7 linked regions of the Homo sapiens genome follow. The protein of the gene in region 1 purifies or fractionates together with the protein of each later gene. This does not show direct contact. Each region holds a gene or a part of one and is shown in the gene's direction. Other genes may lie near its edges. The genes, in order: RND3, LTV1, ARHGAP35, EMC1, AHCYL2, VRK2 and FAM171A1.

What was found.
Region 2: the proteins of RND3 (region 1) and LTV1 purify together in Homo sapiens (affinity purification with mass spectrometry, with the first as the bait; one large-scale study listed by BioGRID). This does not show direct contact.
Region 3: the proteins of RND3 (region 1) and ARHGAP35 purify together in Homo sapiens (affinity purification with western blotting; 2 studies listed by BioGRID, with this or other methods). This does not show direct contact.
Region 4: the proteins of RND3 (region 1) and EMC1 purify together in Homo sapiens (affinity purification with mass spectrometry, with the first as the bait; one large-scale study listed by BioGRID). This does not show direct contact.
Region 5: the proteins of RND3 (region 1) and AHCYL2 purify together in Homo sapiens (affinity purification with mass spectrometry, with the first as the bait; one large-scale study listed by BioGRID). This does not show direct contact.
Region 6: the proteins of RND3 (region 1) and VRK2 purify together in Homo sapiens (affinity purification with mass spectrometry, with the first as the bait; one large-scale study listed by BioGRID). This does not show direct contact.
Region 7: the proteins of RND3 (region 1) and FAM171A1 purify together in Homo sapiens (affinity purification with mass spectrometry, with the first as the bait; one large-scale study listed by BioGRID). This does not show direct contact.

The regions. Positions count from the first base shown.
Region 1 is NC_000002.12:150,480,751-150,485,335, reverse strand, and holds part of RND3 (rho-related GTP-binding protein RhoE precursor), read left to right. Parts: intron 1-4,585. UniProt on the Homo sapiens protein: Binds GTP but lacks intrinsic GTPase activity and is resistant to Rho-specific GTPase-activating proteins.
Region 2 is NC_000006.12:143,845,780-143,850,364, forward strand, and holds part of LTV1 (protein LTV1 homolog), read left to right. Parts: intron 1-271; coding exon 272-445; intron 446-4,351; coding exon 4,352-4,439; intron 4,440-4,585. UniProt on the Homo sapiens protein: Essential for ribosome biogenesis.
Region 3 is NC_000019.10:46,916,115-46,920,699, forward strand, and holds part of ARHGAP35 (rho GTPase-activating protein 35), read left to right. Parts: intron 1-2,373; 5' UTR 2,374-2,561; coding exon 2,562-4,585.
Region 4 is NC_000001.11:19,245,025-19,248,524, reverse strand, and holds part of EMC1 (ER membrane protein complex subunit 1 isoform 1 precursor), read left to right. Parts: intron 1-3,494; coding exon 3,495-3,500. UniProt on the Homo sapiens protein: Part of the endoplasmic reticulum membrane protein complex (EMC) that enables the energy-independent insertion into endoplasmic reticulum membranes of newly synthesized membrane proteins.
Region 5 is NC_000007.14:129,227,629-129,232,213, forward strand, and holds part of AHCYL2 (adenosylhomocysteinase 3), read left to right. Parts: intron 1-4,585. UniProt on the Homo sapiens protein: May regulate the electrogenic sodium/bicarbonate cotransporter SLC4A4 activity and Mg(2+)-sensitivity. On the contrary of its homolog AHCYL1, does not regulate ITPR1 sensitivity to inositol 1,4,5-trisphosphate.
Region 6 is NC_000002.12:58,084,271-58,088,855, forward strand, and holds part of VRK2 (serine/threonine-protein kinase VRK2), read left to right. Parts: intron 1-610; coding exon 611-680; exon of another isoform or gene 681-729; intron 730-2,068; coding exon 2,069-2,156; intron 2,157-4,070; coding exon 4,071-4,176; intron 4,177-4,585. UniProt on the Homo sapiens protein: Serine/threonine kinase that regulates several signal transduction pathways.
Region 7 is NC_000010.11:15,367,900-15,373,015, reverse strand, and holds the start of FAM171A1 (protein FAM171A1 precursor), read left to right. Parts: upstream 1-1,726; 5' UTR 1,727-1,963; coding exon 1,964-2,060; intron 2,061-5,116. UniProt on the Homo sapiens protein: Involved in the regulation of the cytoskeletal dynamics, plays a role in actin stress fiber formation.

The DNA.
Region 1 (4,585 bases):
GAGGAAGGAACCAGACTGACAGGGTCGCCAGAGGCAGTCCCAGCACAAAGGCAAGCGAGAAGTCTCGCACGAGCGAGCGCCTCTCATGGTCGGTGCCAGATGCTCCGACTGCTGCAGTGAGAAGGGCTGATTTTGTTTCCCCCTGGAGTCAGGCTCTTTCTCAGCCGTTCCAAGGGCAGCAGAATCAGGACTTTGCCGCCGTGTTTTCTGTTGGGGATGGTACACAGACTCGAAACTCTGGAGAAGGTGTTGGTAGACAGAATTCAAGTGGTTCCTTATTTCAGTAGTTCCTATCAGAATTATTTTACAGCCTGGTACTTAATGGGCTCTGATTCCCAGACATATCATGGTATGTATTTGTTATGCCTACTGGATGGCACAGCTGGTGTGGTACCGATAATAAGCACCAGTACTCCCTGCCCCAACCGGCAGCCCTGTTTGGACCTAATGCACGATAAAAATTATTTTGGCACGGGGTGGAGCAGTGTGTCTGAACCAGTCGTTGATACAAAGCTGTGTTTAGATCTTAGCTCCTGGTTACCATGGATTTCTGTGTGCAAATCCCCTATCTCCCTGGGTCTCATTTTCATCATCTGTAAAAAGAGGACACTGAGCTAGATGATGTGCAGGATCTCTCCCAGCTGTACACTTCTTGGCTTTATTACGCTGGACAGGCAGGTCTTTTTGTTTCCCAGGATGTTGGTTGGCTTCAGCTCTTAGTCTTAGGGGATCTGGCATCCCGTGCTGGGGTTTTCACAGCCTGCAAAGCAAGCCAGGTTCTGGGCAGAGCCAGGCTTCCTGGTGGATTTAGGAATGAAACCCATCTGGACAGGGAGGGGGAATGGGTGGGCTTATAGGAATGCTGGGCTATACATTTCCTATCTCAAGCTTCAAGAGTGACAGGACCACCAATGGATATTTCGGAATAGATGCCTAAAGGGCTAAATTGATTCTTTTAGGGGAGAAAAGGCACATTGTTTGATAAAGGCTAGAACATAAACCAAAATGTGGGCAGTTTGTAGTTGGAGGCTGTCCTTCGTATGTGCAGGTAAATACCACTTCAGGTATCTTCATGCATTTAATCAAAACTCTGCAGTTCGTAGACTCTGCACACATAGCACAATGCCTTGCATACAGCAGTTATCCAATAAAATCTGATGAATGAGTAAATGAGTAATGATATGCATAGTTGCCAAGGAGATGAGGTTCCCTGACATTTATTCACACTGAATTACCTGTGCACAAAGAATGGCAACTTTATAAACATTGCCTTTCATCGAATTAAAGATAATCATCTGAAATGAATTTGTAGTGAAATAATCACTTGTCTTTTTATTTAATGAAACCAAAACTTATGTATGTTTAACTAAAATATAAAGGTTTGAAAATGTGATGAAGAAAATTTTGTACTGCAAAATTATCCGGTAATGAAATCTTAGTTAGAATTTAGATTTAAACAAATGGAAAAAAGAGGCATAAGGGAATTATTTAGAATTCCATTATGTTGTTCATGAGGTGAAATGTTAGTTAGTTAAACACAGTCACCAAGCACTGCTTACTTAAATTCTAAGAATAGCCTGTTTCCATCAAAAGTGATTTGTTGTTTATATCTAGCAGGAACCATTGAATCAGCAACTAATTATTTCAAGGATCTTTAACATTTTTCCATTTAATTCCAAGCTTTTCATGGCAAATTTCTGGACAGGACTATTTTTTGGTAAATGTTTGACATTTTCTTTGCCCACTAAAACATTTATTTAGTTCAGATTGTAAAAATAATTGCATATGCCTTATGCCTCTTGATACATTTATTTTTTCCAAAGGCCATCAATATAACTCTGGAGAAAAGATCCCAGCCAAGTCTGTAAAGTTCTAAATGTCAGATAAATTGCACTTTTTATTTCCCTCCTAGAACTTTGTGAAAGAGACTTATATAGGAAAAATTGGGTGTGCCTGACTGCTCTTATATAGGGAGAGATACGGGATGAACATTGTCCTTTGAATGATATTTCCTGTCCTGTTTACCCTCCTAGCAGAAGGGCAACCATTTAGAAGACAGAAACAGTTCCTCTCTTATCTGGCCTCTTTAGTTGGACAGCTTCTCATAAGGGGTCTACTTTTGCCCCCAGCAGTCATGATCATGCATAGGCAAACTCTGCCAATTTGGATGTGAGAAAGACTACCAAGTGAAAGTAGGATATGTGAAGTCTCTTTGCACCAAGAAAAAAAAATAATTTCCTGCTTTTTAAGGCACAGTAACTTAATATTTCCTTCCTTTCTCCCTTTCTCCATCCATCTCTTCCTTTTTTCCCGCATCCACTATAAACAGGCCCTCTGTCAAGACCTTAGAGATACAGTGTTAATTAAGCATGGTCCTGCTCCTAAGAAGCAGACAGTTCAGGTGGGGTAATGGAGAAAAAGAAGCTCTTCTGGTTTAGCGTGTATTTCATTAACAACTCATGATGCACCTAATTTTGTCAGGTCCTTGAACCCCAGTGCCCTTTTCCACTTGGTTGCAATGTTTTTCCTTTGTCAGACATCCTAGGGCTTATAGATCCTCTGGATCCTCTTCAGATAGGAAACAGCTACCCCCGCACCGCCCCCCCCACCCCCGCCCATTGCACACACCAGTTAAAGCAACTACAAAAGGCATTTTGCCAGTCAATTCTTAGGGCTACAGTACTCCAGCCCCCCCAACAAAAGTAAACAAAACCTTTGTAAAAATGCTGTAGGAATCATCTAAAAGAGGGAATTTTTAAGGCCCATAACTTCTTCATTTTCCTAAAAAATATTTTTCATTATAAAATGAACATTCTTAATAGTTGCAGAAATGCTCCCATTGATTTTCAAATTTCACCCAATGAGTTTCTGCCAAACAATGGGTAATAGTTTCAATTGTGAAGTAATAAGTAAGACCAAAGTAATTCTAATATCTTGTGCTTCAAAATTGGCCACATTTGCCAAGCATAGAAGTAATTTGTAGCATGAAGCCAAATGCCTACTAATAATAGAAATGTAGTCATTTAAGGATCACTGTATCTTTTCCTAAGAGATTTGATTGCAGTGTAATTTCAGCACATGTGATTTAGGGAGTAATAATCATTCATTCCAGCTTTTTAACCAAGGCAAGTTAATGCACATTTTATTTAAGGCTTATTATTACTTTTAACATATTCAATTCAGCTGCTAAATTCCCCACAATAACTATGCTATTGCCTCATGAACACTCTTTCGAATCTTGTCATGATCCAAGTTTCTTTTAAGCCCTGAGTGCTAAAGTTAGTACTTCCTATTTTAGTTTTTAGCATTACTAACACTTAAGGTGGTATCCTTTATTTCTTAGAGAAAAAGAGAGGAAAAATATCTTAGTTACCTAATGGCCTTAATATGAGGACAAACTTCTCTATAAACAGAAGTCTATCTAAGCTGTTATATTTAGATTATTGTACATCAAGTATGAAGAATGGTCTTGGTGACAAGCTCTCTAATGAAATATTTCTTAACAGGGATGGAAATGGTTCAGCAGTATTGGAGATTAGTATATAATTAATCCAGAAAAGCAGCTTAAAAGGGGATCACTGCTCTCTCTCTCCCCCTCCCCTTTTTTTTTGGTGATTTAGCATATAAATGAACACATCTAGACAAGACATAAAAATGATTATAAAACCAGTAAACATGGTTTAGTGCTTTCTGTGTGCATACAATCTGCTAGATGCTATGGGAGGAGTACAGAGCTGGGTGAGAGCAGCTTCTGCCCTTAGGTACTCACAGTTTCACCATGTGATAAGACAGACATGGTGAAAACATGAGTGACAATAAAATTTAAAATATTCAGGCTTTCCCAAACTAACAAAAGAAATCAAATGAGAAGCCCGGATTAAGTGTCAGGTGTTTAGGTGAGAGGAGATGCCAGTAGACTGAGATTTGAACAGGGTAAAGACATCCTTCTTCCCTGACAACCTTCTTTGAATACCCACAGGACAAACAGAGGACATAGAAAGACTTCCTCCTGTCTAGTGCTGTAATACCTGTTTATAGGATGGTGAGCCCGGAGGTTCTAAACCTGGATTTTTCAAGGAGCAACAAGATCCAAAGAGTTCTTGAAGGCCACAAGGGCAGCCCAGGCTCCCTAACTCATGACTTAATGGTCATTGAGGCCCACCACAATTCCCTTCCTTTCTAGAAGTTGACTAAGTTCTAAGAAGTTTTTAACGTTTCTTCCACGTGGAAACTCGCTTACATTTAGTGGCTCTCAGATAAAACAAGATTCTGGAAGCTGAGAATTATAACTTAAATTAACGTTCTTGGAGAAAGGAAGAGGTTAAGAATTTATGAAGGAGCCAGAGAAGCATGGATGCTTGGGATTTGAATATCAACTGTGAAATTGCAGGAAACCAAGCATTTCATCAGGTAGTAATGATCCATTGGAGCTTAGGGTTTCAAAACTAGGTTTAATTCTTAACGAGTTTTCACACTGAAACTCTTATGTAAAAGACCTGGGTTAAGGTAAAACAGATAGTTTGTATGGTGGTTTCCAATAAGCAGTACATAAAACTGCATTTGGAGATTTGTCCACCATGCAGTA
Region 2 (4,585 bases), on another chromosome or scaffold:
ATTGTTATTTATTTTTATTGCCCTTTTAAAAGCATGAATGTTTTCATTCCATTTTAATGTTACGTAGCACTCTGGTTTTGAAGCTGTACATTTCCTGTTTGTCAAGAATTCTTTGTCTTTTTCCCATCAGCCAAAATGTTCATGTGCCATCTGCCTCCTACTTGGAAAGCTGTACTCATTGTAATATTCCCATGCCTTATCCTTGGAAGGCTTACTGATTCCATTTTGTTTATAGATAGTGAAGAAAGTACTAATTCCATTTCGTTTATAGATAGACAATGAAGAAAGGCGAGCAGAACAGAGGAAGTATGGAGTGTTCTTTGATGACGACTATGACTACCTGCAGCACCTGAAGGAACCATCTGGGCCTTCAGAGCTTATTCCCTCAAGTACCTTCAGTGCACACAACAGGAGAGAGGAGAAAGAAGAAACGCTAGTAATTCCAGTAAGGCTTTTCAGCAATTTAATTGTGGGAGTGAGGTGAAGAAATCATTTTTGAATCAAGATATCTGTTTGGGGCAAGAAATGGTGTCCGTATGAAGAGCACAAAGATAGACCACGCCTCCACTTAAAATTATATATGTGTATGCATGTGTATACCATCAGGAGAGAATAGGTCACGTCTTCTCTGGTGGCAGGTGTCAACAGTAACAGCCTTTTTATAGGTTCAGAACTTTTGATTGATAGACATGGCCATGTTAGACAGCACTTTTCAATAGGAGAAAAGCAGCTGACATTCTACATGTTAACAACATAACTGTTTTCAGGATCATAAACTCTTGTTCTAAGATAGGACTTAACTTTTGTGGAATATTCAGATCTTTAACACTTTTGTAAAAGCTGCAGGCTACTCATAAGCAAACAGAATGAGTGGATGATAATAACATTCCTGTCTTGTAAACAAATGTTCGGTCCACTTTAATACCTTCTCTTTCAGGACAAATGATAGTACGTGTTTATAAGAAATTAGTGCTGTTAGTCTAAGTTCTGTTTTCTCCCCTGTTTATGTTAAGAATGCCCATGTTGTATGCCTCCGTGACCTTATTTTTAATTTGATGTAGAGTAAATTTTCCTGTGGGAAACTTTTATATCACCTAGCACTTTAAAAAAAGGAGACATTCATTAGGTTTATAAGCAAAAGGTAAGAGATAGAAAGGGCACCAGTTTACCCTGCTCCTCATTCCCCAATTCTGTCATGGTCTAGGCATTCCTTTCCTTGGGGAAGATGTGATTGTAGTTCTTATAGGCAATAGCTTGTTGCTTAAGGAGACTCAGAAAGGTTAGGTTTCAGGATACCATCCCAAAGAAAGGTAATAACTGCAGCTGCTCGTTCACTAAGTAGGTTGTGGCTCTTTTGTAACGCCCCAAATCCCACCACATCTCTGTCATAGAGAACCAACTTCTTTATTCCTTCTTCCTCAAGGCTTTATTGGTAGTAGGGACTTATTGGCTCACTTGCTTCTATAACCTATTGAAGGAGAGAAGGGGTTCCTTAGTGGCTCAACTTGTTTATCTAAGGGAGAAAATTCTTAGTAAAGTCTTGCCTGGCTTGTATTGACCAGTACAAGACTAACTTTTGTTGTTGTTGTTATTGTTGTTGAGACGGAGTTTTGCTCCTGTTGCCCAGGCTGGAGTGCAGTGGCACGATCTCGGCTCACCGCAACCTCCGCCTCCCGGGTTCAAGCGATTCTCCTGCCTCAGCCTCCCTAGAAGCTGGGATTGCAGGCATGTGGCACTGTGCCCGGCTAATTTTGTATTTTTAGTAGAGCCGGGGTTTCTCCGTGTTGGTCAGGCTGGTCTTGAACTCCCGACTTCAGGTGATCTGCCTGCCTCGGCCTCCCAAAGTGCTGGGATTACAGGCGTGAGCCACCGCGCCCGGTCGTATAAGACTAACTTTTAATCCTTAATTCATTTTGAGTAAAAGCAATCACTAATTGGCTTTTTAACAGGATAAGGCTCTTAAATGGACACTTCAGTGACCTTTGCAGGGACAGCTGAATTGTATTTAAAAACAGAAGTGTGGTTGGTTTTCTGAAGAGCTATGAAAAAATATGGATTAGTCCCATATACTTTTTTTACTTTAATTTGTAACACACCACCAAATTCGAGTAGATTAGAAATAATGAATAACCCCTAGAAACAGTGTAAGACAGTGTAAAAAGGCAGTATAGAAATGATTGATGCTTGAGCAGGCCCTGATTTTGACATGAAAGAAAGATGGTGGTGCTGTTGTGGAAAGTAGCTGGGCAAATGTCATGTAGTTGAGAACTACTGCAACCAATGAAAACACAGCACTCCTCTAAAAACAGAGTAATTTCTCTTTAAACTCTTAATCGTGTATGTGATTGACTACTTTTCAAGATTTGAAAAATATCTCACAAAGGTAAATTCATTTAACACAAACTGACCTTGTGTTTAACCCCAAACTTCTAAGGATAAATATCACAAAGGTACCTTTTTAAAAACCTAAAAGACTATGTAGATTTTACTACAATTTTAAGTAATTAATAATGTAATATCCTTAAAAAACATTAAATTGTACACTTTAGGTGAATTGTATGTGAATGATGTCTTAGTAAAGCTGTTTTCTTAAAAATATACTCTACAGCAAAATAACATCTTTGCCCATGTTTGTGCTACTGAGAAACTCATTTTGGAAGCCATAACATCTTGCTGTGTGTACACTGCCATATGTAGCCTTTACTCATGCTCCTCAGAGGCTTCCAATTCAGAGAGCTTTCTCAGTGAGCCAATGAGGATGCACATTCCAGCTTTGTGCCTCCTCCTGGGCTGAGGATAGGGCAGGTGGTGAGGTGCACAGAGATAAATAACACATGGCGGTTGTCCTCACGTTATGAACTGTTTGGTCAAGGAGAGGAAACAAGCATAAGAACCAGTCAGAGAATGTAGGCTAGCAAGCACATGTTTGAGTAGATTGCAGCGTGTGAAGAAGGCGGGAAGTTCACACAAAGGGAAGTTCTAGGACAGTGATCAGAAAGGGCTTCATGTCGGAGGGTAGGAACCGAGCTGGCCACCAAGTGGTGGGTACTGTTGACAGGAGAAGGAACATTTTCAGTCAGGCTGCCGAGACAGTGAGCACTGTGGTTCCGTGTCAGGCACATGCGCGCCAAGTAAAGTGTTTTGCATTATTACATGACTGAGGAATGAACTTGATTTGCATGGTCATATAGAATAACTGAGAAATTTGGATACACAGAGTAGGCCTTGATTTTATAGGTCCTTGAGAACCAGGGCCTTAAATACAGAGTGAAAAATTGAGACCTGTCAGAAACTCAAGAAGGTCACATGAAAAACTATTAAAGGAGCTTAATCTCGCCATGGGTATGAAGGTTGTAGTAGATATAGACTAGCTATATGAGCGGTTGCAGTCATTTATGTTTTGGTTAACTATAAATGAGGTGATGCCCCAAAGAATAGAGTGAAATCACTGTATGTAAGAGATTTCAAGGGGACATAGGACAGAGCAAAATGATTTATAACCACCCGAGGATTTAAGATTGCCAATTCATACAAGGGCTGTGCCATTACTAGAGATTAGGACATTATCTCTAGTTTAAGAGGAAAATGTTTAATTTTGGTTTGAAATTTCAGGCAAGTGGAGTTAAGAAACTCTGGGATTTGAATCCCAGAATCTCACTTACTGATCATTCTCAGGCAGGTGGGCCATTTAAACTTTCCTAGTTTTTGTTCTTTTGGTAAAACATGGTGATACCTCATGGGATCTGAGGGATAAATGGAATAATTTGCTAGAGAAGGCATTGTGATGTATTATAGAGAGTTACTTTTGGGTTTATGATGGAATATACATGTTTAACATATATACAACCTGGAGCACAGGTGAGAGAACACAGAATGTAGTTGTAATAGTTTCCTAGGACTGCAGTAACAAATTACCACAAACTAGGTGACTTAAAACAACAGAAATTTCTTCCTTCATGGTTCTGGAGGTCAGAAGTTTGAGATGAAGGTATCAGCAGGTTTGGTTTTTTTCTTGGGGGCTTAGAGGGAGAGGCTGTTGAATGGCTCATTCCTAACTTCCGAAGGTTACCGGTGATCATTCCTTGGAATTCCTTGCCTTATAGAGGCCTCACTCCAGTCTGCTGTCATCTGCACATGGCATTCTCCCCTGTGAGTCTCTGTCTTCATGTGGTCTCGTTATAGGACCATGGTCCAGTAAGACCTCATCTTATTATAGTTGAGAGGACCCTATTTCAAATATGGTCAGTCTAAGGTTCTGGATGGACATTGATTTGGGGGGGACTTCAACCCGGTACACTAGTTAAGAAGAATTTCCAAATAAACCTAACCATTGTGCAATTTCTTTTTCAAGAGCACTGGAATTAAGTTGCCTTCATCAGTGTTTGCTTCAGAGTTTGAGGAAGATGTTGGATTGTTAAATAAAGCAGCTCCAGTTTCAGGTATTTTTAATTGCTTTATCTTTTCATATGGATAAATGTATTTTGCAAAACATAAAGAAATGATGTAGGATTTTTCTATCCCCAGTAAAGTATTGAAACAATTGAGATATGTCTGGAATTCAGATCAGGGATTATTAGGAAGGGAT
Region 3 (4,585 bases), on another chromosome or scaffold:
CAGTGGAGACGGGGTTTCACCATGTTAGCCAGGATGGTCTTGATCTCCTGACCTCGTGATGCATCCGCCTCGGCCTCCCAAAGTGTTGGAATTACAGGCGTGAGCCACCGCGCCCAGCGAAGGAATCCAAACTCTTAAAGTGGTTTGATCCAGTCCCTGGTTCCTTGCTAATGCATCTTACCCATTCTTTCCCCACACACACTTTGTTCCAGTTGGTTCTCCCAACTGGCAGTGCTTTTTTTTGCGGAGGGAAGGGTCTGTGCACACTCTGTCCCTCTGTCTTAAATGCACTTCATACTTCAGGTCTCACCTGAGATGGAACTTCCTACAGAAAGGCTTTCCCGAATCTGAAAGGCTGGGCTTGGGGACCTTTTAATATGCTGAATCATCATTCAGTTATTGATTCTTTCAGTGAATATTTGTGTCAAGCACTGTGTCATAGGCTGAGGACACAGAATAGAACTAAACAGGGGACAGGCCTCACAGAGCTTGCATTCTTGTCAGGGAAACCATCTCGTATTTACACACTTAATTTTTTTTTATTTGGAAATGATTGAAAACTTGTAAAAATAGCACAAAGGAATATCCTATATGCTTTACCCAGATTCATCTATTTTTTTTTTTCAGATTCATGTGTTGTTAACAATTTACCACCCCATTTGTGTTCTTACTCTTTCTGTATACATAATTTTTCCAGTGGGATCAGTTACGTACATTATGGCCCTTCCCCTCAAAATACTAAGGTGTCAGTTTCCTAAAAGTGGAGACATTTTCACATGATAGATTTTATAGATTTACATTGATAAAATATTTTATTTGGGAGGATTTATCCTTCCTGCATTTCTTTTTTTTTTCAATCTTTTTTTTACTGTGTTAAAATACACAAAACATAAAACTTGCCATTTTAATCATTTTTAACTATACAGTTCAGCGATATTAAATACTTTCATGTTATGCAACTATTTCTGTAACACTTTCCATCTTGTAAAACTGAAACTCTGTACCCATTAAGCAGTAACTTTTCATTCCCACTTTCCCCAGCCCCTGACAACCACTGTTCTACTTTCTGTCTCTATGAGTTTGACTACTCTTAAGTACTGCATATAAGTGGAATCATATAGTATTTGTCTTTTTGTGACTGGCTTATTTCACTTAGCACAATCAAGATTCAGCCATGTTGTCAGAATTTCCTTCCCTTTAAAGGCTGAATAGGCCAGGCGTGATCGCTTACGCCTGTAATCCCAGAACTTTAAGAGGCCAAGGCAGGCAGATCGCCTGAGCCTAGGAGTTTGAAACCAGCCCGGGCAACATGGTGAAACCTCGTCTCTACTAAAAATACAAAAGTTAGCTGGGCACGGTGGCGCATGCCTGTAATCCCAGCTACTCGGGAGGCTGAGGAAGGAGAATCACTTGAACCCAGGAGACGGAAGTTGCAGTGAGCCAAGATCGCACCACTGCACTCCAGCCTGGGCTACAGAGCAGGACTCTGTCTCAAAAAATAAAATAAAAATAAAGGTTGAATAATATTATATTGTATGTATATATCACATTTTGCTTATCCATTCATGAGTAGGTGGATACTTTGGGTTGCTTCCATGTTTTGTTGTTGTTGCTGTTTTGAGATAGTCTTACTCTGTTGCCCAGGCTGGAGTGCAGTGATGAGATCTCAGCTCACCACAACCACTGCCTCCCAGGTTCAAATGATTCTCCTGCCTCAGCCTCCCAAGTAGCTGGGATTACAGGCACATGTCACCACACCCAGCTAATTTTTGTATTTTTAGTACAGACGGGGTTTCACCATGTTGGCCAGACTGGTCTTGAACTCCTGACCTCAGGTGATCCGCCCACCATGGCCTCCCAAAGTTCTGGGATTACAGGCGTAAGCTACCACGCCCGGCCCAGGTTCCTGTTTTTGCAGTGGGTTTATAATTCATTACCATACTTAATTATTGTGGCGCTCAAATTGTCCCAGAGTTGGCCAGTGGGAGCCCCTTCAGGCTGGCTTCTGTGTCCTTGTGAGATGCTCCATCGTTTTTTTTCTTGCATAAAAAGATGTTCCAGGCTCATTTTGTCCCTATCCTGCCCTAACCCTGGAATCAGCCCTTTTTCCAGGGAGCCCTCACACCCTTGTTTTAGCACTTAGCACACTGTTTACTTATGTTTTCCTCCACTGGACTAGATTGTACCTCTCTGGGGACACATAGATGTGAGTCTTACTTGCTCTTGTATCTTCACCCAGCACAAGGCCTGACACATGAGATGTTTACTAAATATTTGTTGAATAAAAAATTAATTTTTACTGTAGTTAATTGATTAAAATTTGGTTCTAAAATTATGATGCTGATGGGTTTTCTTTTTTTTTCCCCCATCTAGGAAGAAATGTTGGCTATTTGGCGATGAGAGGTGGTGAACAGTGACCATACTGGTATACAACACTATGGGACCTGGCATTTTTGCTGCATGTCCAGCCCACCCCCACTAATAATGTAGGAAGCTGTCTGGTCCATTGGAAACACTAATCTGATCTCAGAAGTGGCTGATCGTGGCAGGATGTGTCGACGATGATGATGGCAAGAAAGCAAGATGTCCGAATTCCCACCTACAACATCAGTGTGGTGGGATTATCTGGGACCGAGAAGGAAAAGGGCCAGTGTGGGATTGGAAAGTCTTGTTTGTGCAACCGCTTCGTGCGCCCGAGTGCTGACGAGTTTCACTTGGACCATACCTCCGTCCTCAGCACCAGTGACTTTGGAGGGCGAGTGGTCAATAATGACCACTTTCTCTACTGGGGAGAAGTTAGCCGCTCCCTGGAGGATTGTGTGGAATGTAAGATGCACATTGTGGAGCAGACTGAATTTATTGATGATCAGACTTTTCAACCTCATCGAAGCACGGCCCTGCAGCCCTATATCAAGAGAGCTGCTGCGACCAAGCTTGCATCAGCTGAAAAACTCATGTACTTTTGCACTGACCAGCTGGGGCTGGAGCAGGACTTTGAGCAGAAACAAATGCCAGACGGAAAGCTGCTGGTTGATGGTTTTCTTCTTGGTATTGATGTTAGCAGGGGCATGAATAGGAACTTTGATGACCAGCTCAAGTTTGTCTCCAATCTCTACAATCAGCTTGCAAAAACAAAAAAGCCCATAGTGGTGGTCCTGACTAAGTGTGACGAAGGTGTTGAGCGGTACATTAGAGATGCACATACTTTTGCCTTAAGCAAAAAGAACCTCCAGGTTGTGGAGACCTCAGCGAGATCCAATGTAAACGTGGACTTGGCTTTCAGCACCTTAGTGCAACTCATTGATAAAAGTCGGGGAAAGACAAAAATCATTCCTTATTTTGAAGCTCTCAAGCAGCAGAGTCAGCAGATAGCTACAGCAAAAGACAAGTATGAGTGGCTGGTGAGTCGCATTGTGAAAAACCACAATGAGAACTGGCTGAGTGTCAGCCGAAAGATGCAGGCCTCTCCAGAATACCAGGACTATGTCTACCTGGAAGGGACTCAGAAAGCCAAGAAGCTGTTTCTACAGCACATCCACCGCCTCAAGCATGAGCATATCGAGCGTAGGAGAAAGCTGTACCTGGCAGCCCTGCCATTAGCTTTTGAAGCTCTTATACCTAATCTAGATGAAATAGACCACCTAAGCTGCATAAAAGCCAAAAAGCTCTTAGAAACCAAGCCAGAATTCTTGAAGTGGTTTGTTGTGCTTGAAGAGACCCCATGGGATGCCACCAGTCACATTGACAACATGGAAAACGAACGGATTCCCTTTGATTTAATGGATACCGTCCCTGCAGAGCAGCTATACGAGGCCCACTTAGAGAAGCTGAGGAACGAAAGGAAAAGAGTTGAGATGCGAAGGGCGTTTAAAGAAAACCTGGAGACTTCTCCTTTCATAACTCCCGGAAAGCCTTGGGAAGAGGCCCGTAGTTTTATTATGAATGAGGATTTCTACCAGTGGCTGGAGGAATCTGTATACATGGATATTTATGGCAAACACCAAAAGCAAATTATAGATAAAGCAAAGGAAGAATTTCAGGAGTTGCTTTTGGAATATTCAGAATTGTTTTATGAACTGGAGCTGGATGCTAAGCCCAGCAAGGAGAAGATGGGTGTTATTCAGGATGTTCTGGGAGAGGAACAGCGATTTAAAGCATTACAAAAGCTCCAAGCAGAGCGTGATGCCCTTATTCTGAAACACATTCATTTTGTGTACCACCCAACAAAGGAGACATGCCCCAGCTGCCCAGCTTGTGTGGACGCTAAGATTGAGCACTTGATTAGTTCTCGGTTTATCCGGCCGTCTGACCGGAATCAGAAAAATTCACTCTCTGACCCTAACATTGATAGAATCAACTTGGTTATATTGGGCAAAGACGGCCTTGCCCGAGAGTTGGCCAATGAGATTCGAGCTCTTTGTACAAATGATGACAAGTATGTGATAGATGGTAAAATGTATGAGCTTTCCCTGAGGCCAATAGAGGGGAATGTCAGGCTTCCTGTGAACTCTTTCCAGACGCCAACATTTCAGCCCCACGGCTGTCTCTGCCTTTACAATTCAAAGGAATCGCTATCCTATGTAGT
Region 4 (3,500 bases), on another chromosome or scaffold:
TTACTTGAACCTGGGAGACGGAGGTTGCAGTGAGTTGAGATCACGCCACTGCACTCAGCCTGGCAACAGAGCGAGACTCCATCTCAGAAACAAAACAAAACAAAACAAAAAACAGGTTGGGCAATATGGCGAAACCCCATTTCTGCAAAGCATACAAAAATTAGCCGGGCATGGTGGTGGGTGCCTGTAGTCCCAGCTACTCGGGAGGCTGAGGTGGGAGGATCACCTAAGCCTGGGAGGTCGTGGCTGTAGTGAGCTGTGATGGTGCCTCTGTACTCCAGTCTGGGTGACAGAGTAAGAGCATCTCAAAAAACAAGCAAACAAAAAACAAACTAAGACACAAACACATTAGCCTGGGCCTAAATAGGGTCAGGATCATCAATATCACTGTCTTCCACCTCCACATACTGTCTTACTGGCAGGTTTTCAGGAGCAGTAACACCCATGGAGCTATCATCTGTGATAACAATGCCTGTTTCTGGAATACCTCTTTTTTTTTTTGGGACAGAGTCTTACTCTGTCGCTCAGCCTGGAGTGAAGTGGCATGATCTCAGCTCACTACAACCTCCACCTCCCGGGTTCAAGTGATTCTCATGTCTCAGCCTCCCAAGTAGCTGGGACTGTGGTGCACAGCACTATGCCTGGCTAATTTTTGTATTTTTAGTAGAAATGGGGTTTCACCATGTTGGCCAGGCTGTTCTTGAACTCCTGACCTCAGGTGATCTGCTCGCCTCCGCCTCCCAAAGTGCTGGGATTATAGGCATGAGCCACTGCGGCCAGCTTGGAATACCTCTTGAAGCACCTGCATGAGACTATTTTACAGTTAATTTTCTTTTAATAAGTAGAAGGAGTACTCTAACCATAAAAAGTAGATACGTAAACCAGTAACACAGTCATTTATTATCATTGTCAAGTATTATGTAGTATACATTATTGAATATGCTGTACTTTTATACAGCTGGCAGTACAGTGGGTTTGTTTACACCACCTTCACCGCAAACGTGATTAATGCATTCGACTACAATGTTATAGCAGCTACAATGTTACTAGGTTATAGGAATTTTTCAGCTCCATTATACTCTTGTGTGACCACCACTGTATATGCTGTATATGCGATCAATCATTGACTGAAACATTGTTTTGCAGTGCATGACTGTATAGTAAAACGTTAAAAGTATATGTACAAAGCTGGGCACAATGGCATGCACCTGAAATCCCAGCTACTTGGGAGGCTGAGATGGGAGTATTACTTGAGCCCAGGAGTTCAATCCAGCCTAGGCAGCACAGTGAGATCCCATCTCAAATAATAAAAAGTGTATCTATAGTGGTGGTTGTATTAGTTTTCTCAGGCTGCTATAATGAAATACCATAGACTAGGTGGCTTAAACAATAGAAATTGATATTCTCACAGTTCTGGAGGCTGGAAATTCAAGATCAAGGCATTGGCAGGTTTTGTTTCCTCTGAGGCCTCGCTCATTGGCTTGCAAAAGGCTGCCTTCTTGCTGTATCCTTACATGGCCTTTACTGTGCTTACACATCCCTGATGTCTCTTCCTCTATTGGATTAAGGCCTCACCCTTTTGACTTTATTAAAACATAATTACATTTTTAAAGGCCTTGCCGTCAAATACTGTAACACTGGGGGATAGGGTTTCAACACAGGAGTTTTTGAGGATACAATTCAATCCAGAAGAGTGATATATTACATTTTAAAATTTTTATTATTTATTTATTTTTTATTGTTTTGAGACAGAGTCTTGCTCTGTCACCCACGCCGGAGTACAGTGGCATGATCTTGGCTCACTGCAACCTCCGCTTCCAGGGTTCAAACGATTTTCCTGCCTTAGCCTCCCAAGTAGCTGGGATTATAGGTGCCCATCACGCCCAGCTAATTTTTGTACTTTTATAAGAGATGGAGTTTTACCATGTTGGCCAGGCTGGTCTCAAACTCCGGACCTCAAGTGTTCGGCATGCCTGGACCTTCCAAAGTGCTGAGATTACAGGTGTGAGCCACCGTGCCTGGTGGAGATTTTTAAATTGTTATAAGTGTTCCCCCCACCCACTCATTTTCTGTAATAAGGAGGCATTACTTTTATATCCAGATAAAACAACAGTATTTTATTTACTTATTTATTTGAGACAGAGGCCCACTCTGTCGCCCAGGATGGAGTTCAGTGACACGATCTTGGATCACTGCAACCTCTGCTTCCTGAGTTCAAGCGATTCTTTTGCCTCAGCCTCCCGAGTAGTTGGGATGACAGGCACGTGCCACCACGCCCAGCTAATTTTTGCATTTTTAGTAGAGATGGGTTCTCACCAAGTTGGCCAGCTGGTCTCGAACTCCTGATCTTAAATGATCCACCCACCTTGGCCTCCCAAAGTGCTGGGATTATAGGCGTGAGCCACTGCGCCTGGCCTGTTTATTTTTTTGAGACAGAGTCTTGTCAGGTTGGAGTGCAATGGTGTGATCTCGGCTCACTGCAGCCTCGACCTCCTGGGCTCAAGCGATCCTAATCGAGAAAATTATTAGCCTCACATGGTAGGCTACCAAGTACAAAGGAGGTGCTTGCTCTGTGCTGTTAAGAAGTGCTGTGATCTCAGTCGGGCGTGGTGACTCACGCCTGTAATCCCAACACTTTGGAAGGCCGAGGCGGGTGGGTCAGTTGAGGTCAGGAGTTCGAGACCAGCCTGGCCAACATGGTGAAACCCCATGTCTACTAAAAATACAAAAAAATTAGCCGGGCGTGGTGGCAGGTGCCTGTAATCCCAGCTACTCGGGAGGCTGAGATAGGAGAATCGCTTGAACCTGGGAGGTGGAGGTTGCAGTGAGCTGAGATTGCACCATTGCACTCCAGCCTGGGGGACAAGAGTGAGACTTCGTCTCAAAAAAAAAAAAAAGAAAGGTAAGGTGCCCTTTTGGGTGTCACTTATCTGAAGGTAAATATGTGCTTCCATTTAGAAGGAAGAGTTAGTATTATCTATTAGGAGCTAATTTTCTTCTCTTACTCTCTTTGCATCTGACTACATTGAATGGAAATCTTGCTTTTGGTCAGAGCTCTTCACTAACAAACACTTCTTTTTTTTGAGATGGAGTTTTGCTCTTGTTGCCCAGGCTGAAGTGCAATGGTGCGATCTCAGCTCACTGCAACCTCCGCCTCCCGGGTTCCAGCAATTCTCCTGCCTCAGCCTCCCGAGTAGCTGGGATTACAGGCATGCGCCACCATGCCCAGCTAATTTTGTATTTTTCATAGAGACAGACGGGGTTTCTCCATGTTGATCAGGTTGGTCTCGAACTCCTGACCTCAGGTGATCTGCCTGCCTCGGCCTCCCAAAGTGTTGGGATTACAGGTGTGAGCCACTGCGCCCAGCTAACAAACACGTCTTATGTGTCCTAAAATGAATGTGATGGTGATAGCCCTGTGATTTTTTTTCCGGAGCATTTTGTGGAATGGTGATTTTAGCTCCTTATGGTCCCCTGTACTCTTTTTTTCTCAGGAGACA
Region 5 (4,585 bases), on another chromosome or scaffold:
AAAAGTTAAAAAATCAAAGACCAGCATACTGGAGTCTGTTTTTCTTAATTCTAGATGTGCTTCTTGACCACTTTCCTTGTCGTTGAACCATCTTCCTGTTTTTTCAGCACCAAATGTATGTTCCATGATTGTAGATATACTCAGCAGCCTCAAGGCTATTGTAAAGCAGGGCTGAGCTTGCCTTACAATGTTAATTGCACCAAAAAAACAACTTCTCTGCTGAAAGTTAAGCAGGTGAAGCTCTGGGCAAGGATACAGCTGGATGACGAAATTCAGGGCATTGCTGAGCTGCTTTTCAGGTGCCCAATCTTTAACCTTCTTGATATTGAATTGGCTAAATCAAAATAAGTGCCCAAGACTGCCCTTTCCCTAAGTTGAAAGTCATCTCACCAAGGAACTGCAGTGTGACATTTTGATTTGTTGAGCCTTTGTTGATTCTTAGATTGTCTATGTAAATAACCACTTTGACCTTGACTCCTTACTGTTTTTCTTATAGCATATGAAGGAACTGAGAATACTAGTATTGAAATAGCTGCCTTTGGCTGTGGAACTGGTGACTGTTGCATTTGTTTTTTAACTTTCATGTATAAACATTTATTTTAAGTCACATTTCCATAGATGGTTTTCCTTACTTCATTCACATATCATCAGTTTTCTTAGTTTTGTTACTCTGCTCAGCCACACAAGGGGAATAAACTTTTTACAAGAGCCAGAATTCCCAAGTGCAGTAGTTAATAAGAAGGAACATATGGTGTGCAGGTTACTCAATCACATCTTATCTTTGGCACCTGCCTCCGTCCTGTAACTTGCGATGCTCTGGGGGCCAGATCATGTTATGTGGCTATGATATATTTAATTATAGTGTCCTTTTTCATAAGTTGACATCAAGTGAACCCAGCAAGCCAAAAATCTCTATAAGAAGTAATTTGGGAAATGGGAAGGTAAGTTCCACAGGGAATGAGGTAGTACTAGCTGAAAGGGATTTCTTCCTTGTGTTCTTGAAAATGAGTGATAGGAGTGTTGGCGCACAGCAGGGAAAACAAGGCAGGAGAGGATTTATTTCAGAAATATTAAAACTTTCTGACAATAAGGCTGCAAGCCCAAGAACCTCAACTAGATTGTGCTTACATCAGTATCAGTAATGACCGTGTTCAAACAGACCCTTTATTGCTTTTGGCAAACATATCCACCTTCCACTGGCTTTGTTGCTGTCAGGAGAGAATGAGTTGAGCCATGTTAGCACTTCTTGTCCTGAATTGTTTAAGCTCTTGATTTGGTTAATTATAGAGTACTAAAATGGAATGTTTTGGATAAAGACATGGGAATGTGGTAGCAGTATGACTCCTTTTGCCTGTTACAAGAGTACTGCTCTGAAAAGTGTTCAGTAAGGCAATTGGCAGTTGGTCTGTAATAATAGTTACCAATAATTAGCCTTTTTTTTTTTTTTTTTTTTTTTGAGACAGAGTTTTACTCTTGGTGCCCAGGCTGGAGTGCAATGGTGCAATCTCAGCTCACCGCAACCTCCGCCTCCCGGGTTCAAGCGATTCCCCTGCCTCAGCTTCCTGAGTAGCTGGGATTACAGGCATGCACCACCATGCCCGGCTAATTTTCTATTTTCAGTAGAGATGAAGTTTCTCCATGTTGGTCAGGCTGCTTTCAAACTCCCGACCTCAGGTGACCTGCCTGCCTCGGCCTCCCAAAGTGCTGGGATTACAGATGTGAGCCATTAGCCTTTTATGTGCCAGGAGTTGTCATAGGGGTTCTGTAATCCTCACAACCATACTATGAGATGTAGGTGGCATTATTTCCATTTTATAGATGCAGAAATGAGATCCTGGGAGGTTAAGTGCCTTGCCCAAGGTTATACATCTAGAAAGTGTCAGAGGTAGAACTTAAATCCAGGGCTGTCCGTCTCCAAAGCCCATGTCCTTTTCATTATGCCACAGTGATTCTAACTTCTTAGATGCTGAGTTCTTGCTTTCTCCCAGAGGTCTTTTAGAATACTAAGTGAACTCTAAGGCGTGTCTGTCTGGCTAAGGCTTAGGTCATCCCAAGACCAAAGTAAGGCAGGTCTGAGTTAGAGCTTTAGGAAGAGGATGGGAGAAAATTGTACAAATGTAGAACTTGAAAGAATTGTAAATTTAGAAGAGGAGAATAAAAGCATCTTATACAGAAAAGCATTTCAAGATCAATGATGCAGCTTCACACTGGTAATTTACTGATAATCTGAGAAATTTATCCATATTTTAAAAGTTATAAATAAATTTGGAGTACCTGAGGAATATACCCTTTCTTCCTGTTCAGCTAACACTTTTTCCCTATTCTTTAAGCCTCACCATCTCTATGAGTCAATCTTTGATAAGAGCTTTTGAAAATTGCAAAGGGAAGAATATTCCTACTGTATACCAGGCATTGTACTTAGAGCTTTACATATACTGTTTTATTTAATTCTTTTTTTTTTTTTTTTTTTTTTTGAGACCAAGTCTCGCTCTGTCACCCAAGCTGGAGTGCAGTGGCGATCTCGGCTCACTGAAACCTCCGCCTCCTGGGTTCAAGCGATTCTCCTGTCTTGCCCTCCTGAGTAGCTGGGACTACAGGTGTGTGCCACCACACCCGGCTGATTTTTTTAATTTTTAGTAGAGACTGGGTTTCACCAAGTTAGCCAGGGTGGTCTCGATCTTCTGACCTCGTGATCCACCCGCCTCAGCCTCCCAAAGTGCTGGGATTACAGGCATGAGCCACCGCGCCCGGCTATTTAATTCTTTTAAGAGGCCTCGAAGATAGCTAGTGTTCTCCTTGTTTTATTGAAGAAACTGAGTGTCGAAGAGATTAAGGAATTTGTCTCAAGGTTACACGGTAATGTGATGGAACTAACAGAGCCCTAAACTGTTGCTTTTCAATTCAAATAGTACTCTGTTCGAAACTCAGGATGAACCTTCTAAATCTTTTTTTTTTTTTTTTTGAGATGGAGTCTTGCTTTGTTGCCCAGGCTGGAGTGCAGTGGTGCGGTCTTGGCTCACTGCAACTTCTGCCTCCCGGGTTCAAGTGATTCTTCTGCCTCAGCCTCCCGAGTAGCTGGGACTACAGGTGCACGCCACCACGCCTGGCTAATTTTTGTATTTTTAGTAGAGACGAGGTTTCACCATATTGTCTAGGCTGGTCGTGAACTTCTGACCTCGTGATCCACCTGCCTCAGCCTCCCAAAGTGCTGGGATTACAGGCGTCAGCCACCACGCCTGGCCCTAAATCTTAATCTGTGTTTTTTGGGTAGTTTTTTTGTTATTGCACTGACAGTTTCTTTTTATTTATTGCGTGGTTGAAGGTCTTACCGTGTGTTTTTGTGAGCATTTATTTTCTGAGAAAGCAGCCTGAGGTGGGCAGATCATGAGGTCAAGAGATCAAGACCATCCTGGCCAATGTGGTGAAACCCTGTCTCCACTAAAAATACAAAAAATTAGCTGGGCATGGTGGTGCACTCCTACAGTTCCAGCTACTCAGGAGGCTGAGGCAGGAGAATCACTTGAATGCTTGAATGCGGGAAGTGGAGGTTGCAGTGAGCCGAGATCATGCCACCGCGCTTCAGCCTGGCGACAGAATGAGACTCTGTCTCAAAAAAAAGAAAAAAAAAAGCTGCTTTAGGAGCTGAAGTTGCAGTTGTGTGTTTGATGTCTTGAGGAAGACAATTACTACTACTACTACTACTAGTACTACCTACATTCTCAGTATCCAGTTAATTGAAGAAATCGATAGTTCATTAAAAAGGGAGAGTGAGTTTATTATATCATTTCCTTGGAAGTGATTCCCTCCCCCACGAGAGAAAAAAAGTTTGTTGTAATCTTTATTCAGACCCTTTGTCAAGTTTATAAAGAATATGCAGTTTGTTTCATGGTGGTTTTTGTTTAAATAATTTAGAGAGGTACAACTGAGGCAGATGGGAAGAGAACAATCTTGGCAGTTGCCCTGATCCACTGCCCTGCTGTCATGTTTAGGTGGTAGACACAATTAGAGGAGCTGAAATTCCATTCACCCAACAAGAGGTTTAGTAAACTTGATCAGATTTCTATGGAATTTGTAGGAGCTTTTTATAGTCTGAATGACCTATGGCCTGCGATTTGGTGAGAGCAGAGCAGAAAGCGGCAGTGGATTGACGTTTCTTCTGTAACAGTTCCCAACTCTAAAATTACTTTGATTAAATTAGATGATTATTTGTATGGGTTTCAGTCTCCCTTTTCCCCAGCTGTATCGTGCAACAGTTCAGTTAGCTATTTCCCTCTTGGACGCTTGCACTAAAAGCTGGTGATTTTATTTTCTTTTTTTTTTTCAAGGGTCTATCAGTAGAAATCTATTGGTTTGGGGCACCTAGTTCTTAGCTTAGAACCTATATAAAGGAAGGGTATTTGAACTGCTGATTGAGTTTCTCTGAGTATAGGACTTTAGCCTTTCTGAATGTTGCAAACCTGAGGCTAAAACTAGCTTCATCTTCTCTGCACACACTTACATTCTACAGTGCTCCAAGGTGAAACTTCATCTATTGACTACCTTTTCTTGGAAACTCTTCTCTTGGCTTCAGTGTCACTTATAATTG
Region 6 (4,585 bases), about 92 Mb from region 1:
TTGTTAAAACATTAAAACTGGAGAACCTTTGTTTTTCTGTATTGCCAGCTATTACCCTGGTGTGTTATCTATCTAGCTATTCTTTCTCTTTCCCTCCCAAATGCCCTCCCACCCTCTCCACCTCTCTAATCAAGATGGTAAGGTCCTTAAAGGCAAGCATAGGGTTTTATTTCTTTTTGGTGTCCCCTGTACCTAGTATAATGAATGAAATATAGTAGACCATTCAGTAAAGGTATCATGTGTGAGTGGACCACAAGGAGAGTTTGCTGTGTATCACCTGGATGTATATGTTGGTATACAGTGAGTGTTGTATATGTTTATGTATACAGTTCTCAGTGCTTCTAGTAAGTGTTCTCTGTAAGAAAACTACTTTTATGTGTAAGACTGTATAGGGATAGTGGTACAATATGTCGTTTAAAAATTAGATTCTTCAAGTTTATTTAGTGTTTTCTGAGATTTTTAGTGGAAATCTGGTGCCTATGTTTTATAAAAAGTGATTCAAGTACTATTATATACTACATATATATGTTCATATTTTCACAGTTGAAATAACAATTCCATCTTTGGGATTATTTTTTTCTAGTAAAATTAATTATTCTTTTTTTTATAGGAATATCAAGAAAATGGCCCGTTATTTTCAGAACTTAAATTTTATCAGAGAGTTGCAAAAAAAGACTGTAGTAAGTAAAATTAGCAAAGCAAGCTACTTCCATATATGTGCTTGCTAAAGTGAGTGTTGATATTTTGGTCTTTTTCTGGCCTTCTGGAAAATTCTTTTCAATAGAAATTTTATTGTAAAGTGATACAGTTAACTGTTACAACATATAAAAGCAAGACAGATGGTATACAAATCTTGACATGACATACATAATGGGTTATATATTTTAAGTCAAAGTTGTTTCTACTACTTTACATAAAATGTTAGGTTGTTAATCTAAGCTACCAAGAGTTCCCTAAGTGTAAAAGATAGTAGAATGAAATTATTTCTTTTACAGTAAACCATTTGGATAGGACGGCTATAAGGAAAAAACATTAAAATGGGAAGTAGATATATGTATAAAAAAAGAACGATTGTAGAATGGATTGGGGCAAGGTGTGTGGAAATGTGAAAATGATTAAACTTTAAGATGTTTAAGAAAATGTTAGAAACTTGAATGCTGGAAAATTAATTGGAGCTGGATACCAAGTGTAAGAATGACCAGTTAGAAGACTTGAATGGGAAATGAATATAAGCAGAGAGGAAAAATAACAGCATTTTATAAATGTGATATAGATGGGCTAAGAAAAACATTAAAGAAGTAGACAGGAGTAATGACTGTATAGTCAAGGTCCTTTACATCATGTTTAAGAATAAGAGTGATGGGTCTGACCTCAATATTTAACTTAGTTTTTCTTAATAAAGTCTTCTAAACATTAAGACTGTAATCTTTACTAATTGCTTAAACTATGTCACAGTGACAAATAGAATCCATTAAACTTGATTGTTTATCAGTAGAGCTGTCTTAAACATAAAAAACATAGGCTAGAGTCATGAAAAAAATGATGAAAGTTAACTTTATTTAAGTGGATTTGATTTTTTGTAAACTAATCAAAACCAGTTTTTGTATAAAGTAATTTCAAAGTAAGATGGTTTTTCTGCCCAATTTCTGCTTTTTTTTTCTTTTTTTTTTTTTTTTGGTCCATTATGGTTTTAAATCTTGAAGTAATAGGGAAGAAAAAGCCATCTCTCTACTGATCTTTTGGTGGTTAACATATGTTATATTTAGAAATTTAGCTAGTATATAAGATAATGAATTCTTTTTATAGATTGAAACATTAATATATATGGTATCAATATACAAAGCCTATGACTTGTTTTTATTGATTTAATTTAAAAATTTCTAATTTTTTGTTAATTATAGTGGTAACAGTTTGAGGCCATTAGATAGAGATGTTTGATTGAAAAAAAATTATCTTCTAGGAAGATCTAATTACTTTTTTGGTTAGCTAAATAAATTTGTCTGTAGAAAGGTGACAAGTATCTTTTCAAATAACATGAATCTTTTTAAAAATAAATTTGTCTTTGTAGTCAAAAAGTGGATAGAACGCAAACAACTTGATTATTTAGGAATTCCTCTGTTTTATGGATCTGGTCTGACTGAATTCAAGGGAAGAAGGTAAAATGGAATTATTATAATCAAATATTTCTTTATAACTATTCCTTATGTGGTCTATGAGTTAACTATTGCCATGTAACAAATTACCAAAACATATTGGCATATAACCACAAACTTGTATTGTCTTAGTTTCTGTGAGTGAGGAGACTGCAAGTGGCTTATCTGTATGATTCTAGATCAGGATCTCTAATAAGGATATGTAGTCAGCTGTCTGCTGGGTTACATTCATTTCAAGGCTCATCTGGGGAAGTATTTGTTTTCAGGGTTCCTCATGTGGCTACTGGTAGGCCTAAGAAGATCTACTTCTAATTTACTTATGTGATTGTTGGCAGGCCTTCTTACTTCCTGATCATGTGGGTCTTTGCATAAGCTACCTGAGTGTTATGAAAAATAGCTGGCTTTCTCTAGAGCAATTAATTGGGGGACGGGGAGAGCATGCACACAAGTGCATTCAAGAAGGAAGTCATCGTTTTTTGTAATCTAATCTTAAAAGGGATATTATCGCTTCTGCTTTATTCTCTTTGCTAGAAGCTAGTCACTAGATAGATCCATTGGTCCTGAGAGAGGAGAATTCAGTTCTATCTCTTGAGGAGAAGCACAACAAATAAGTTATAGAAATATCTTTAAAACCACCAAATATGGCTAGTCCTATATATAATTTATTAATAGTGTTTGAAAAAAGAAAAAAAGTGTGTCATTTTATATTTACCCTTTTGTGCCAGAGACTTTTATATACTTTATCTTATTTTGTCCTTTGAATAGCCTGTTAAAATAGGTGATATTATTTTTATTCCATAGATGAGAGAATAAGCTCAGATGTCAGTACTTTGTTGAAATGGTCTCTAAATGCTTTAAATTTAAAAAAATGAGCAAACAGTAATCTTGAAGTAAAGGACTGCCACTGGGGGACTGAATGGCTGATTGAATCATGATACATCCATATCATGTCATATGTAGCCCATTAAAGAAGTCCATTAGAGCTATACTAGTTGCCTTAGAAGGATTTTGATGAGATACTATTGAAAAAAGTAAGATGGAGAAAATACTTATAATATGATCACATTTTTGTAAAACAAATTCCTAAGTGTGTGTGTTTGTGTATGCATGCATAGATATAGAATAGGGGCTGATGTGGATATATAAATGAAGGGAAGGAAAGAAGGTATGGAAGGTGCCAAACAGAACAGAAAAGGAAGAAGTGCACTTAAAGACATGTTTATAAATGTATAGAGACGGTATATATGATCTTATCAAGAAACAAACAAATATAAAATTCATGTGGCTGGGCACGGTGGCTCATGCCTGTAATCCCAGCACTTTGAGAGGCTAAGGCAGGCGGATCATGAGGTCAAGAGGTCGAGACCATCCTGGCCAACATGGTGAAACCCCGTCTCTACTAAAAATACAAAAATTAGCTGGGTGTGGTGGTGCATGCCTGCAGTCCCAGCTACTTGGGAGGCTGAGGCAGGAGAATCGCTTGAACCTGGGAGGTGGAGGTTGCAGTGAGCTGAGATTGCACCACTGCACTCCAGCCTGGTGACAGAGCGGGACTCTGTCTCAAAAAAAAAATCAAGTGTGTACAATAATTTGTTCAAGGCCATATGGCAAGAAAGTCATGGAGTCAAAATGAATTGCATTCAGTACTATCTAATTTAGAAAGATTTTTTCATTATGTAAAACAGTGTGAATGGTTCAGTACAGCATTCTCTTATAGAAAATCAGCTGCAAAGTAAATATTGAGCAGTTTCTGCAAAAGAATAGCAGAATTATGAACGTGCATTCATTCTCTAATGGTTTAGATTGCATTATACTTAGTTGTTAGGTTGAGCGTAATTTTTCTTGTTTCAAATTAAATAGACAGTTTCAAGCATTACTTTCTCAGGATGATCTCTTTTTGATGCTTTTTTCTTACAGTTACAGATTTATGGTAATGGAAAGACTAGGAATAGATTTACAGAAGATCTCAGGCCAGAATGGTACCTTTAAAAAGTCAACTGTCCTGCAATTAGGTATCCGAATGGTAAGAATTACTTATTTCGCATGCTCCATTTCCAAATTGTTTACTTCTTGCAATATAGAAATCTTTTCCCTTTGTGGAATTATTAGAGAATGAAGGATTATTGCCCTAGAGACATCAGTTATTAGGAGTAGAGGCTATTTTGGTGAAATTGATAACAATGGGCTCTGTAAGTGACAGAATGTGCTGTGTATGGCACTGCAAACTCAATTAGGCTTTGGTTCTCCAGTCTGATCTTCTTTTTCCTTAGAGCTTTGTTTTACATACCAGAACAAGCTTTCATTGCTGTAAGAATAACCTTTCTTTTGTCAGTTATAACAATGCAAATTATGGCAAAATATATTGTCAGACATTTTAAACATGTGATGGTAGGGGGGTGCTATGAAGTTTTTATTATGAGTTTGGGATGGTG
Region 7 (5,116 bases), on another chromosome or scaffold:
ACAGTAATAACCCTCCTTCTGGCCTGGTGTTCTGGAAGCAGTGTGGGGTGGATGATGGGTCTGGAGTGGATTTTCCTAGGTCCCCAGTGGAAGTCGGAAGGTCACCGCAGTGCTAGTTGGAAGAGAAGGTGGAGAGGGACAAGTGGAGGTGAAGGTTGTGTGGAAGGCATACCGACAGGAGTGGGTTGAGAGAAAGAAAAGTTGAGGTTGGAATGGAGGGGGTCCCTAGGCTCAAGGAAAGTCTAGAGGTTTGGTTTTGTTTTGTGTGTGGTTTTTTTGGTGGTTTTATTTTTTGATTTTTTTTTTTTTTTTTTTTTGAGACGGGGTCTCAGTCTGTCATCCAGGCTGGAGTGCAGTGGCACGATCTTGGCTCACTGCAACCTCCCCACTCCCAGGTTCAAGCGATCCTCCCACCTCAGCCTCCTGAGTAGTTGGGACCACAGGCATGGGCCACTATGCCTGGTTAATTTTTTTGTATTTTTGGTAGAGACAGGGTTTCACCATGTTGGCCCAGCTGGTCTCTTAACTCCTGAACTCAGGCCATCCACCTACCTCAGCCTCCCAAAGTGTTGGGATTATAGGCATGAACCATCACACCCAGCCAAGTCTGGAGGTTTTTGTGAAGAGTTTCAATTTTGGGGTCAGACTGACTGTTTTATTAGAATTTTGGCTCTGCCACTGACCAGGTATGCACTTTTGGACAAATTCCTTAACCCTCTTTAGCCTCTTTTCTCATCTGTGAATGGGGGGGATAATGCTAACTACCTCTTAGATCATGTATTGTGAAGATGGACAAAGAGTCTCTGCTTGACCGAACTACAGTCAGGCTCCGGAACCTTCTTCTAGGCTCAGTTGTGCCCTTCCTTGTAAAATCTGCTTTCAGGAAGAACCCTGCTAAGTCAGTTTACCAAGAACCCTCCACCCTGGATATCTGATCAGCTTCCCCATCCGCCCTGTCCTGCCCAGCCCTGCCAGGGGATGTCTGACTTTCAAGAATCCCCCTTCCCCCTGATGTTTCCTCTTATAATTTTTCATTCCCTGCATCCCACCCTGGTCCTCGGTTATAAATCCCCACTTGTTCCTGCTGTATTCAGAGTTGAACCCAACCTTTCTCCCCGACTGCAGAATCCCATGGTAGGGCTTATACCTATTGCGATGGTTCCAAAGAGGGTCTTCTTTGCTGTGCTTTCACACGTGTCATGGAATAGTCTTTTTTCTTTAATAGGACAGAAAGTTTTAAAGCACCTAGGGCCTCAAAAGATGTGGATTTCCTCCCCACCCTAACCCCTAGAACCATCCAAGTACCATTCCTCCTGAAGCTGTCCACCCGCCAACACGTAGGTACTGCAGGCCTACTGCAGTCTATACTGGCTTGGGGAGTGTTTTTGCGGATCTTTAACACTGGGTGTGAAATCTACGTTGGGGGACACAACTACATTAGGATGGCACCTGGTGGGGGGGTCACACCCAGATACAATGTCTCCTGCGGCCCCTTGGGTGACCTGGTGTGATGAAAAGGGCTCCGCCCTGAAAGGCAGGTCTGGCTCTTCTGCGGGGCTGCGGGGATGGGGCGCGCCGGGGCAGTGTCGCCGGGGGTCGGGCTGGGGGCGCGACGCAGCGGCGCCGGGCGGGGGCGCCCTCGGCGCCGCAGCCGCCAGGTGGCACCACGGGCCCGGGGCCTGGGCGCGGGCAGCGGCGGCGGCGGCGGGCGAGGCAGGAAGGGGTTAAGGAGCTGGCGGAGCAGCAGCAGCCGCCGCCGCCGCCGCCGCCGCGGCTCTTCGGGGAAACCCGGCGCGGGGCGCGGGAGGGAGCGGCCGGGGCGGCGGGGCCGGGCCAATCGGGCGGCGGGCCCGGCGCGCGGAGCCAGCGACATGGAGGGGGGCGCGGCGCCCGGCCGCCCGTGACGCGCCGCCGCCCGGCCCGCTCTCGGCGAGCCCGAGCCGCCGCCGGCCCCGCGGCGGAGATGAGCAGGTCCGCGACGCTGCTGCTGTGCCTGCTGGGCTGCCACGTCTGGAAGGCGGTGACCAAGACGCTGCGGGAGCCCGGCGCCGGAGCCCAAGGTCAGTGGGCGGCGGCGGGGCCGGGGGCTTTGTGTCGCGCCGGGCCTGGCGCGGAGGCGGCGGCGGCGGCGGCGGCGGCGGGAGGGTCCCGGGCCGCGTGGTGGCGACGCAGCCCGAGCCGCATCGGGAGCCTCCGGGCCTGCAGCACCCGCAACGCGCTCCCGAGGGGGCGGCGCGGGCCGGCGACGCGGGGTGACCCGGGCGGAGGCTTCGGGGGCCGGGGATCGGGGGCTGGGTCGGGCGGGGGCGCGGGCAGCTCCAGCTGCTGTCGCCGCTGCGGCGGGGGCTCGTCTGGATGCGCCCGGGGGTCCCCTTTATGCCGCGCCTCGGACACGCGGCTCTGTCTCCCATGTCGCCGCGGACAGAGGGGCCGCCCAGGGCGCGCCGCCCGATCGCGCTCCCGGCTCCCCACGCCGGGCTCGGGTCTGGGAAGTCCCAGCTCCTGGGCTGCGCTGGGGCCTTTTGTTGTGGCGGGAGGGGGTGGCTGACGCCCCGGGGTGCCCCCTGTGTCCCGGGGCCCCGAGGTCCGCTGCCGCCACTAGCCACTAGCCTGCCGCAGTTTGGGAAAGTTTGGGGGGTTCTCTCCCCCTGCCTATCTGACGTCTCTTCCAGACCATAAGGGATTTGCTCAGCGGCCCATGAGTCTTCTCTGTAAGGGAAGAAAGAATTGAACTGGGAGGCCCTCATCGCTCACCAAAAAAAAAAAAAAAAAAAAGAAAAATCCTTTCCAGATCAGTTTGTCGCCAGCTCGTGCCTTTTGTCTCGTCTTTGGCCTCCACAAATCTGCTTTCCAGCCCTGGGAGTAACGTGGTCGCCTCTGAGAATGGCCACGAGCCTGTCTTTTGTTTTTAAAATCAGCGTTTTTTGAGGGGAGTCCCCCACACCCACCCTGAGGCTTGCTTGGCACATTTTTGTGGGGACAGCGTCGAGGACTCCTCTGTTGCTGGCGTTTTCAAAAGGGCCACTGAGGCCCGCAGATGAGCCTCTGCATTCACCCAGGGCACCGCTGCCTGGACTCTTGCCGGGGGCTCAGGTCTCTGCGAGGGAGCTCCCTGCAGCCCTGCAGAACCCCGGGATTCCGAGCCCGAGGCCTGTCCCCTCAGAAGGGTGTGTGTCCTGCAAAGTTGGCCCTGCAGGCCAAAGAAACGAGGAGTGCTGCATCCGAGGGTCTCCTTGCTGGAACCCCCTTTCCTCGGCTAACATGCTCAGGGTGCCTGGGAGCAGAGACGCCCGGGCTTCCACCACGATGTTGCTACGGGGAGGAAAGGCTCTGCCAACACTCTGTTGGGTTGAGTTTGTTGCCTACATGTTGAGTTGAAGGTTTTCATATTCTGGCACTTGCAGTATCATTTCCTGGTATATCTTAAATGCATTGCTGCTTCTATGGCCATGGTAGAATATGACCGTTATGAATTGTGTATAATTTTAGTAATGCATATCATGGAAGAGCGGACAGCTACAAAATACAAAAAGACCTATATGTCTCTTCGTGTAGGAAACGAATGTTTAGGACATTAGATCATCAGTGTTGCATTGCAGCTTCTTTTATTAATACCCTACTGCTTTTTTGAATCAGCTATTTTAGAGAATGATATTTGCACTTCAGCGAGGCCGTTAATTTTAAAGAGCAAGTTGAATTTTTCCTTTTGCACTTGAAATACCAATATATGGAAATATTAAATTCATGCACTTCTGAATTAGAGAAAGGAAGGCATGTCTTCAATATATATATATATATATATTCAATATATATATAACAGGTTTAGGTCTAAGACCACGTTTTACCCAGCTCTTGCTGCTAAAAATCCGCCTCTCAGGAATGGAATATTATGCGAAATGGGAGGGAAATGGTCAACATGAGAAGAGGTTTCTGCCATGGCTAGCAGTGGCTTAGTTTAGGGTATGGTTGGAGTGGGAGATCAAGTATCTTGGCATAGTTTACCCCTTGGATTACTTCCTTTGTTGTTATCTACTGTAAGGATGGCTTTTTAAAGCCTTGAGCCCAGGAACTCTTTCAGAAATCAGGTCTCACTACCTGGCATTTGGATTTTGAGCTAGCAGCATTTTTAAGGGAATGGACAATTTCTCCTTTGACATTAGAAGGTCAGTCCCAACTCACTGAGTTCTTCAAAGCATCTTAATGTTCACTTGCTGTAGTATGACGTAGTTTTAAAATTCATGTGTTCTCTGCTTTCCTGGATCATGTACACGATGAAGACAAATGCTGCATCTGATTTCACTTTGCATTTCCCACAGTGGGTTGTAGGTTGTTATGCATACAGTTGGTGCTCAGATGGTGCTGAGTAGGTAAGCATCAACCATAGCTAATACCTACACCATAACGCAACCTTTAGTGATCATCATTGGCTTGCATTTTAAGAAGAAAAGTTCAATGTTTACCTTCCCCAAAAGCTAATTTGTAAGAATCTTGCTTTTATGTAGAATCTGTTGTTTGAATCATTCTTTGAACAAGCATTGCACATACATATTATGCACCAACAGGATTTGGCAATTACTTTGGTAAAACTGCTTAGAGACCTCAAACAGACGGAAATCATATACTGTAGTAGTCCAACTAGATTGCTAGAACTAAATGACACCTTTTTGATTAAATGAGTCTTTATGTCATCTGATGAAACTAGCATCTGCAGAATTTCTTGGCATTACTTTGCTTTTTATATATTCAAGATAAAATTGGAGGCTTGGCTTCAGACTCTCTTCCCGTAGCTGCTTCGAATTGGCAAAGTGATTTCCAATGCCACAGTCAGTTGTCACGGTAAGGGTTGGCTTTGTTTATCATGAATTTGAACTAGCTCTAGACTATGACTATTTTTATTAAGTGTTTCCTCTCAGTTGCTCTGGAGCATTTATAGTATCGAATCTATTTTCTGGGAATTTTTCAAAATTGTTGTTCAAAAGTATTGACCCATTTTGATTTTCTTCACCTCTTTTGCAAAACTGTAATGAGGCTGGGTTCAATAGAGAGAGCTGTCCTGGAGGAGCAGTAAGCTGTGCAGATGTACTCTTTAGGGATGTGTTTTTGAAGCCCAGCACTC